Homo sapiens: one gene and its partner. The protein of the gene in region 1 interacts with the protein of each later gene in a pairwise test. Each region holds a gene or a part of one and is shown on either strand. Other genes may lie near its edges.

The links. Proteins that work in one complex are often made in the same cells at the same time.
Region 2: the proteins of GSN (region 1) and IQUB interact in binary tests that used the Homo sapiens proteins (3 or more experiments, as listed by UniProt).

Annotation. Positions count from the first base shown.
Region 1 is NC_000009.12:121,323,662-121,327,161, reverse strand, and holds part of GSN (gelsolin), read right to left. Parts: intron 2,609-3,500; coding exon 2,518-2,608; intron 651-2,517; coding exon 480-650; intron 1-479. UniProt on the Homo sapiens protein: Calcium-regulated, actin-modulating protein that binds to the plus (or barbed) ends of actin monomers or filaments, preventing monomer exchange (end-blocking or capping).
Region 2 is NC_000007.14:123,496,596-123,500,095, forward strand, and holds part of IQUB (IQ motif and ubiquitin-like domain-containing protein), read right to left. Parts: intron 312-3,500; coding exon 101-311; intron 1-100. UniProt on the Homo sapiens protein: Adapter protein that anchors the radial spoke 1 (RS1) complex to the A microtubule of outer doublet microtubules in axonemes. The triple radial spokes (RS1, RS2 and RS3) are required to modulate beating of the sperm flagellum.

The DNA.
Region 1 (3,500 bases):
GACCCTGATGGCCTTGGTTGACTCCCATGAGTCACTAATGCACTGTGACTAGCCAACATGATTCTAAAAATCAGGGCTGCATTAACAGAAGTTGAATGCCCAGAACAAAGGAGGTGAGAGTCCCATTCCCCTCTAGGCTGCTCAGACCATCCTGGGAATCAAGTCCAGATCTGTGCCTTCCTCCGTGAAAGGGATAGTAGGCAACTGGAACGTAATCAGGAATGGCATGCTGATTGTACAGAATGGTAGGTAGTGAGCTGTCCACTGTGCAAAGTGTGCAAGGGACACTGGGTATCCTTGAAACAGGGGGGAGTCTAAGACAGACAACCCTGTGGCCACGGCAGGAAAATACAAAAAGCTGCTTCTTACCCCGTCATTCACCATCCCCTGCCCCCGTTCCTGTGCCTGGAGATCTGGTCATTGAGCTGGGAGGTTTCAGGGAGGCCAATCCCTTCTGTGTTCCAGGACCTGGAAATTACCTCAACAGCCCGGGTGGCTCCAGCGCTGTTGGCGCGGACCTGGAAGAGGCGGGTGCTGGCAGGGGCTGTCTGCCCGCCCTCGCGGGAGGTGCCGCCCTTGTAGATGATCATGGGCTTCCCACCAAACAGGCTCATGAGGTGGGCGGGCTCCTTGCCTTGGACCACACGGCTCTGGCAGGGAGACAGGAGAGCAAGTCAGGGACCTTGGGGGCAGGCTTCAGTCCTTCTATGTCGCACTGGGCCCATCCCTCCAGACGAAGCCATCATGCTTGTGTCTGTGTGTGGCATGGAATGTGACCCGACAACACACAGGCAGGGACACCAGAATTCCAGGAAGGGTGGAGACAGTGCTATTGTCTGAGGTCCCCAGGGCACTGCTGCTGGGCTGCTCTCCATCTCCATGACGACATGCCTTCCTGATCCTCAGCCTGGTCCAAGAACCAGGAGAGCCTGTGTTTGCAAATGTTCCCTTAAATAGAAGCACAGGGATTGCTGGTGGACATTCTTCCAGAATGCTGACGTCAGGCCTGGGCATGACTGCTGGTGGAGTGGTAAGAACAGAGCATTCTAGATCCAGAAAACCCCCTCCTGCAGAGCCAGTGCACCCCAGATGCGGGCAGCAGTCAGGGGCTTGGTGGTGGGAGTGAGGCAGGGAAGATGTACACCCTCACATCTGCTCCTGCCCTGTGTGCGGCACCTTACCGTGGCCCCGGCTAACTATGTCCAGAAGAAAACCTCACATGTACGTCAGGCATATGGCAGTCGCTTCCCACCACGACCCACCACCGCTGAGTTAGGGCTTAGACCCCAACTCCACCCTGATGGTGAGAACTTGGGCACGTGTCTCAACCTCTTGAGTTCCTCCTCTGAAAAATGCAGCCAAGGATGCTACTCCCAAGGCTGTTGTCAGGATGCACTGAGCTAAGATGGTCATCATCTCATTTAGTGCCCAGCACCCAGTCTATCATAGTCAAAGGTCAGGGCACGAACCCCCGATGCCAATCTAGAGCCCTGCCCACTCCCACCGTAGGACGGAGGAAGCACAGTTGTTGTCCGCTTCCCCTATATTTCCACAAACCAGCTCTGCTGCCCTCCAGCGCCTGGCCAGAGTGACTTTTTAAACCAGAAATCCCTACACCTCAGACTTATCATTCAGCAACTTCCTGTTGTTCTCAGCATCAAGGTCAACATCGTCACTATGGCCTCTGGTGGTCTGGCCCCTCTGAGCACCTCTCTAGCCTCAAATCATGGCATTTTCCCCTTGCTTTAACACCCAATGCCCCCTCCCACCTCAGGGCCTTTGCATGTGTACCACCCTTTACCCACAATGTGCTTTCCTTCACTCTGCCTGGGCAACTCCTACACGTGCATCAGGTCCCAGTTGAACAGTCCCCTCCTGGGACAGGGGTGGGCTTTTCTAATCCAATAGGATCCTACCTAGGATTTACCTCCTTGTACTTAACACATATGTATAAGGGGGCACTTCTTATATGGCAGGCATGATTCTAAATGCTTACAAATGTTAACTCTTAATCCTCACAGCAATCTTGTGGGATGGTACTGTTATTACCCCTATTTTGAGGACACAGAGGCACAGAGAGGCTAAGTGACTTGCCCAACGTTGCCCAGAGGTGAGGACAGGATTCAAACCCAAGCATGCTGGTTCCACATCCGTGCTCAGCCACATGGCCTCTCCCATGTCTCTCTCCCAAGGTCTTGTCAATTTCACTCACTGCATCTGTCATAGCCATTGGTGTGCCTGTGTGTTGAATGTCTACTACCACCCAAGACAGCAAAGTCCACTAGGGCAGGGACAGTGTGTCTGTGTGTCCATGGCTACAGATGCAGTGTGGAACACATGGAAGCCCTAAATAAATACCTGTTCCATGGATGGATGGATGGATGGATGGATGGATGGATGGATGGATGGACAGACAGACAGATGGACAAACGAATGGATGGATGAGAGTCAGACAGATGAGTGAAGAGAAGGACAAGGCTCAGGCTGCAGCCCAGAGAGGCGGTGGGCTGGGCTCACCTGGACAGGGGTACCTCCCAGCTCCTCATCCAGCTGAGCAGTCAGGATGGCAGATGCAGCGACCTCATCCTGGGTAGACTGGGCACCCTGCCTGGAAGGGGAAGTGAGATTCAGCATCAGGGTGCACACAGAGCCCTGAGCCTCTCCCTTGCCCTGAGTCTGAGAAACCTACACATCTCCCTGTTACCAGTAATGAAACAGATAGAGAGGGAAGGGGACTCTTTCAGAACAACGAGAGCCAGGAACCACACCAACACTTCCACTCTCAGCCTAGCATCTTGCCCGCTTACAGAGATCTTAGTGCAACGCATGGATTTCCTTATGCTAAATGTGTCCCACAGGAGACTGGCTGGGTCATCCCATGCTGAACAGCCACAGAGAAGATGCTCTGAGACTCAAATCTGAGATGCAGAAAAGTGGCCAGGACATTTCTCTGGGCGGAAAAGCAGGTCGCAGAATAGCAAGTGTTACGAGAGCCTATTTGTGGGAAAAGATGTCAGTGATTAAGCCTCCCATGAACACGTGCAGAGAGGTCTGCACAGATGTTCACCAAAAAGGTCCATGGTGATTGCTCTTAGAGGGAAGATTTAGGGGGATTTTGCCTTTCTATCCCACCTCTTTGCATATTGTCTAAGTTTTCCATAACCAACATATGTCGTCGTATAAGCAAACAAAATCTGACCTATTAATGCGCTGATGCAGCTAATTTTTAAAACAGTCTTCTCACACATTTTGTACCAGGTGAATGTGTTATCTAGTCAAAAAAAAAATTAAGCTGTTTTTAAATGTCTGGGGTTGTCAAATTGAGAGACATTCTACAAAATAACTGACTAGTACCCTTTAAAAGTGTTAAGGGCATGAAAAAAAGGAAAGACCGGGCAACTGCCATAGATTCAGAGACTTTGGAGACATGATGAGTAAATGCCATGTGGGATCCTGGGTTAGATCCTAGATCAGGAAAAGAACAGTAGTGGGGGCCGGGC
Region 2 (3,500 bases), on another chromosome or scaffold:
CCCTAAAATAATAACACCTTCCTTTTGTCTGCAGTAAATCTGTTTTTCCTATTAATGAAGAATTTAAAAATATTTTTTGCAAAGCCTGTGTCCAACTTACATTCTAATGCATTATAAAGAAATTCAAAATCTTCATTTGTTTTAGGATTATGCCTCCGGTGATAGTCCAATTTTATCCATTCTTCTTTTTCTCTTATCTTCCTTAGTTCTTGCTGTGTTTCCCATTCCAGTCTTAAGCTTTTCTGTCTTCTTAAATTCTCTACGAAGATTTTAGCATGCCATTGCCTGTAGTAAGTCTGTATCACTATCACCTATAGTTAAATTAAAAGGAAATAGAAAGTGCCTATCATCAACTTTTTGATCAGACAATAAAGGCAATGATGATTATTTCAATTCCAATTCCACAACAAAATAACTGAGTCTAGTTTTAGCTCCAAATACATATTTTCACAAACACTAACATAAAAAACATGTATAATGCATGTGACTGCTATTTGACTTTGACATCTCGCAAATATACCTTCCCAGAAGGATGTTTGTACGATCCTTAACAGAATAGACTCTGGAGTAAAACTTAGTTTGAATCTTCCTTCTGCTACTCACTAGTTGTTTGATTGGATAAGTTACTTGCCATCTCTATGCTTTAGTACCCTCATGTGTAAAACAGTGATAATAAGAGTATACATATAAAGTGCTTAACCCAAGCCTGGTACATCATGAGTCCTCAATAAATACTATTATTGTCATACATATTAATTATCTCCATCTTATCTTAAATGCCACTAGCTTAGGCTCATGTTTATAACAAAACTGTGTTTTCCTAAATACACATCAGGTAGGTATGTGTGGAAACCACCAAAGGCAGGTTAGATAAAATGGAGACTGAAGCAAACAAATATTTATTAACTTGTATGAAACATGAATATGTTTGAAAGTACACCATAGTACTAAACCCTCAAAAAGTTTATGATATAGCTGAGAGAGTTTATCATTTTTTTCTGAGAGTTTATAATTTTATTTATTAAACTCATAAATAAAAATAAAATGTGAAGAGGCCGGATCAAGACTGATGATAGAGCTTATGCTGATGCATCCCTTACTCTCATCCTAATGCCTAATAATTGTAGAAAAACTATGTAAAGCAGATATCGACAAAGATACTAGATCAAACTGAAGGGGTCCCCCAAAAGAATAGAAACTTTGAAGAATCCCTTCAACAAAAGAGGCCAGTAGAATTAATTGAAGAAAGAGTCTGTAACCTAATCATGCACTGGAGAAGCAAGTCAGAAAAAACAAGGGGCTCTAGGACTGCTCTAAGCCCAAAACTGATGGATGGTCTGAGCAGAGTGGCCACTAACCAGGTGACTTTAAAAACTGCAAAAGGGATAGGTTCCTCTAAAATAATTAGGCAAGGAGCAACAGAGATATTTGTCCCTAGGCAAGAGTGGTGAGTGTCCCAGAAGGTGACACCCAGGATGAAAAAAAAAAAGCCCCCTATCCAGAAAACTAGGTTTCTCCCATAATCAAGCTTTACATTTCCCCTAAAATCATGGGGTCAGACTGGGTGAACCAATATGCTATTGGCACACTGGACATTAAGAATCTCAAACACATCAGCGGCATCTAGAAAACTATTAGCAATGCAAATTTTCAGGCCCCACCCCAGAGCTATTGATCAGAAACTCCTGGGTAAGCACAGCATTCTATATATTCATGAGCCCTCCAGATGATGCTTATAGTAAAGTTTTAGAACTACTAGAGTAAATCAAAACAAAACAAAATACAAGAGCAGACTAGATATAGTTAATATTTTCACAGAGAAAGGAAAGGCTATCAGTATAAAATAATATAATGAACCAAGAAAAAAGACTGGCAAAAATTTTATTTTTGAAATTTAAAAAATTAATAGAATATGGATTAGCCTGAGTGCTATTAAACTTGTTCAACTTATTTAAAACACCAAAACACAGTTGTTTAAACAACACAGAAGTTTTTTCCCTTTCACATGACAATCCAGGGATTAGCAAAGCAGTTTAGGGCTCGTAGGAAAGCTCTGTCATATTTAACAAATGGCTTCCTACTTATATGTCCCAGATGGCTGGTCCACTTACCATCTTCCAACCAGTAAATAGAGGGAAAAGGAACAAAGAGCATTTTAAGAATGATAACTGTAAGTGGCTCACATTGTCCCTCACATCTCGCTGTCCAGATCTTAGTTATATGGCCTCACTGATACACAAGGGAAGTGATGAAATGTGGTCATCAGTGGAACAGCCACATGCTCAGATAAAGCTTTATTACAATAGGAGAAGGGAAAAAATGGGTATTGACAGAGAACTAGTAGTTTCTTGTAAGCTGATCTGCAGAATGTGTAGAACATAAGAAGTAATAAGTAGGTAAGAAAATTAGGTGAGAAAATCTTTTAGCATGCAGGACAAAGGCTCATAAAAATTTAAATGAATGAATGAAAAATAAGAGACACAAAAGATAAATCCCAGCATTCCAAAATGTTTCCTTTTTTTCTTTTTTTCTTTTTAGGCGAAGTCTCACTGTCACCCAGGCTAGAGTGCAGTGGTGTGATCTCAGCTCACTGCAGCCTCCGCCTCCTGGGTTCAAGTGATTCTCATGCTTCCCCTCCTGAGCAGTTGGGACCACAGGCACGTGCCACTATGCCTAGCTAATTCTTGTATTTTTAGTAGAGACAGGGTTTCACCAAGTTGCCGAGCTTGGTCTCCAACTCCTGGCCTCGAGTGATCTGCCCACTTCAGCCTCCCAAAGTACTGGGATTACAAGCATGTGCCTCAGCATCTGGCCTCATCCCAAAATATTTCTGAGATAAGTTCCAGATAAAATAAGGAAAGTTGATTACAGAAATTCATAAAAACATAATAGAGGTATATTTCCCACAGCAAGACATGGACTCTCGGAAAGGGTACATCACCAAGTCTCAAGCATATTACAATAAGATTACCAAATACCAAGGATAAAGTGAAAATCCTGACAGCTTCTAGAAAGAGGAAACAAAGAAAGGAGGGGGCAGAAAATGAAGAAAAGCCTAGTAAGGTTCTTGACTTATTCATGGAAACGATATATAGGCTGATTAGATATGCACTTGGTATAAAAAAATTAGTTATGTTAAAAAATGTGTATGAGTAACTGTCAGAGGCGTGTGAACCAGAGCAACTCCATCTTGAATAGGAGCTGGGTGAAATGCGGCTGAAACTTACTGGGCTGCATTCCCAGACAGCTAGGCATTGTAAGCCACAGGATAAGATAAGAGGTCAGTACAAGATACAAGTCATAAAGACCTTGCTAATAAAACAGGTTGCAGTAAAGAAGCCAGCTAAATCCCACCAAAACCAACATGGCGACAAGAGCGACCTCTGGTCATCCTCACTGCTACACTCCCACCAGCGCCAAGACAGTTTACAAATGCCATGGCAATATCAGGAAGTTACCCTATATGGTCTAAAAAGGGGAGGCATGAATAATCCACCCCT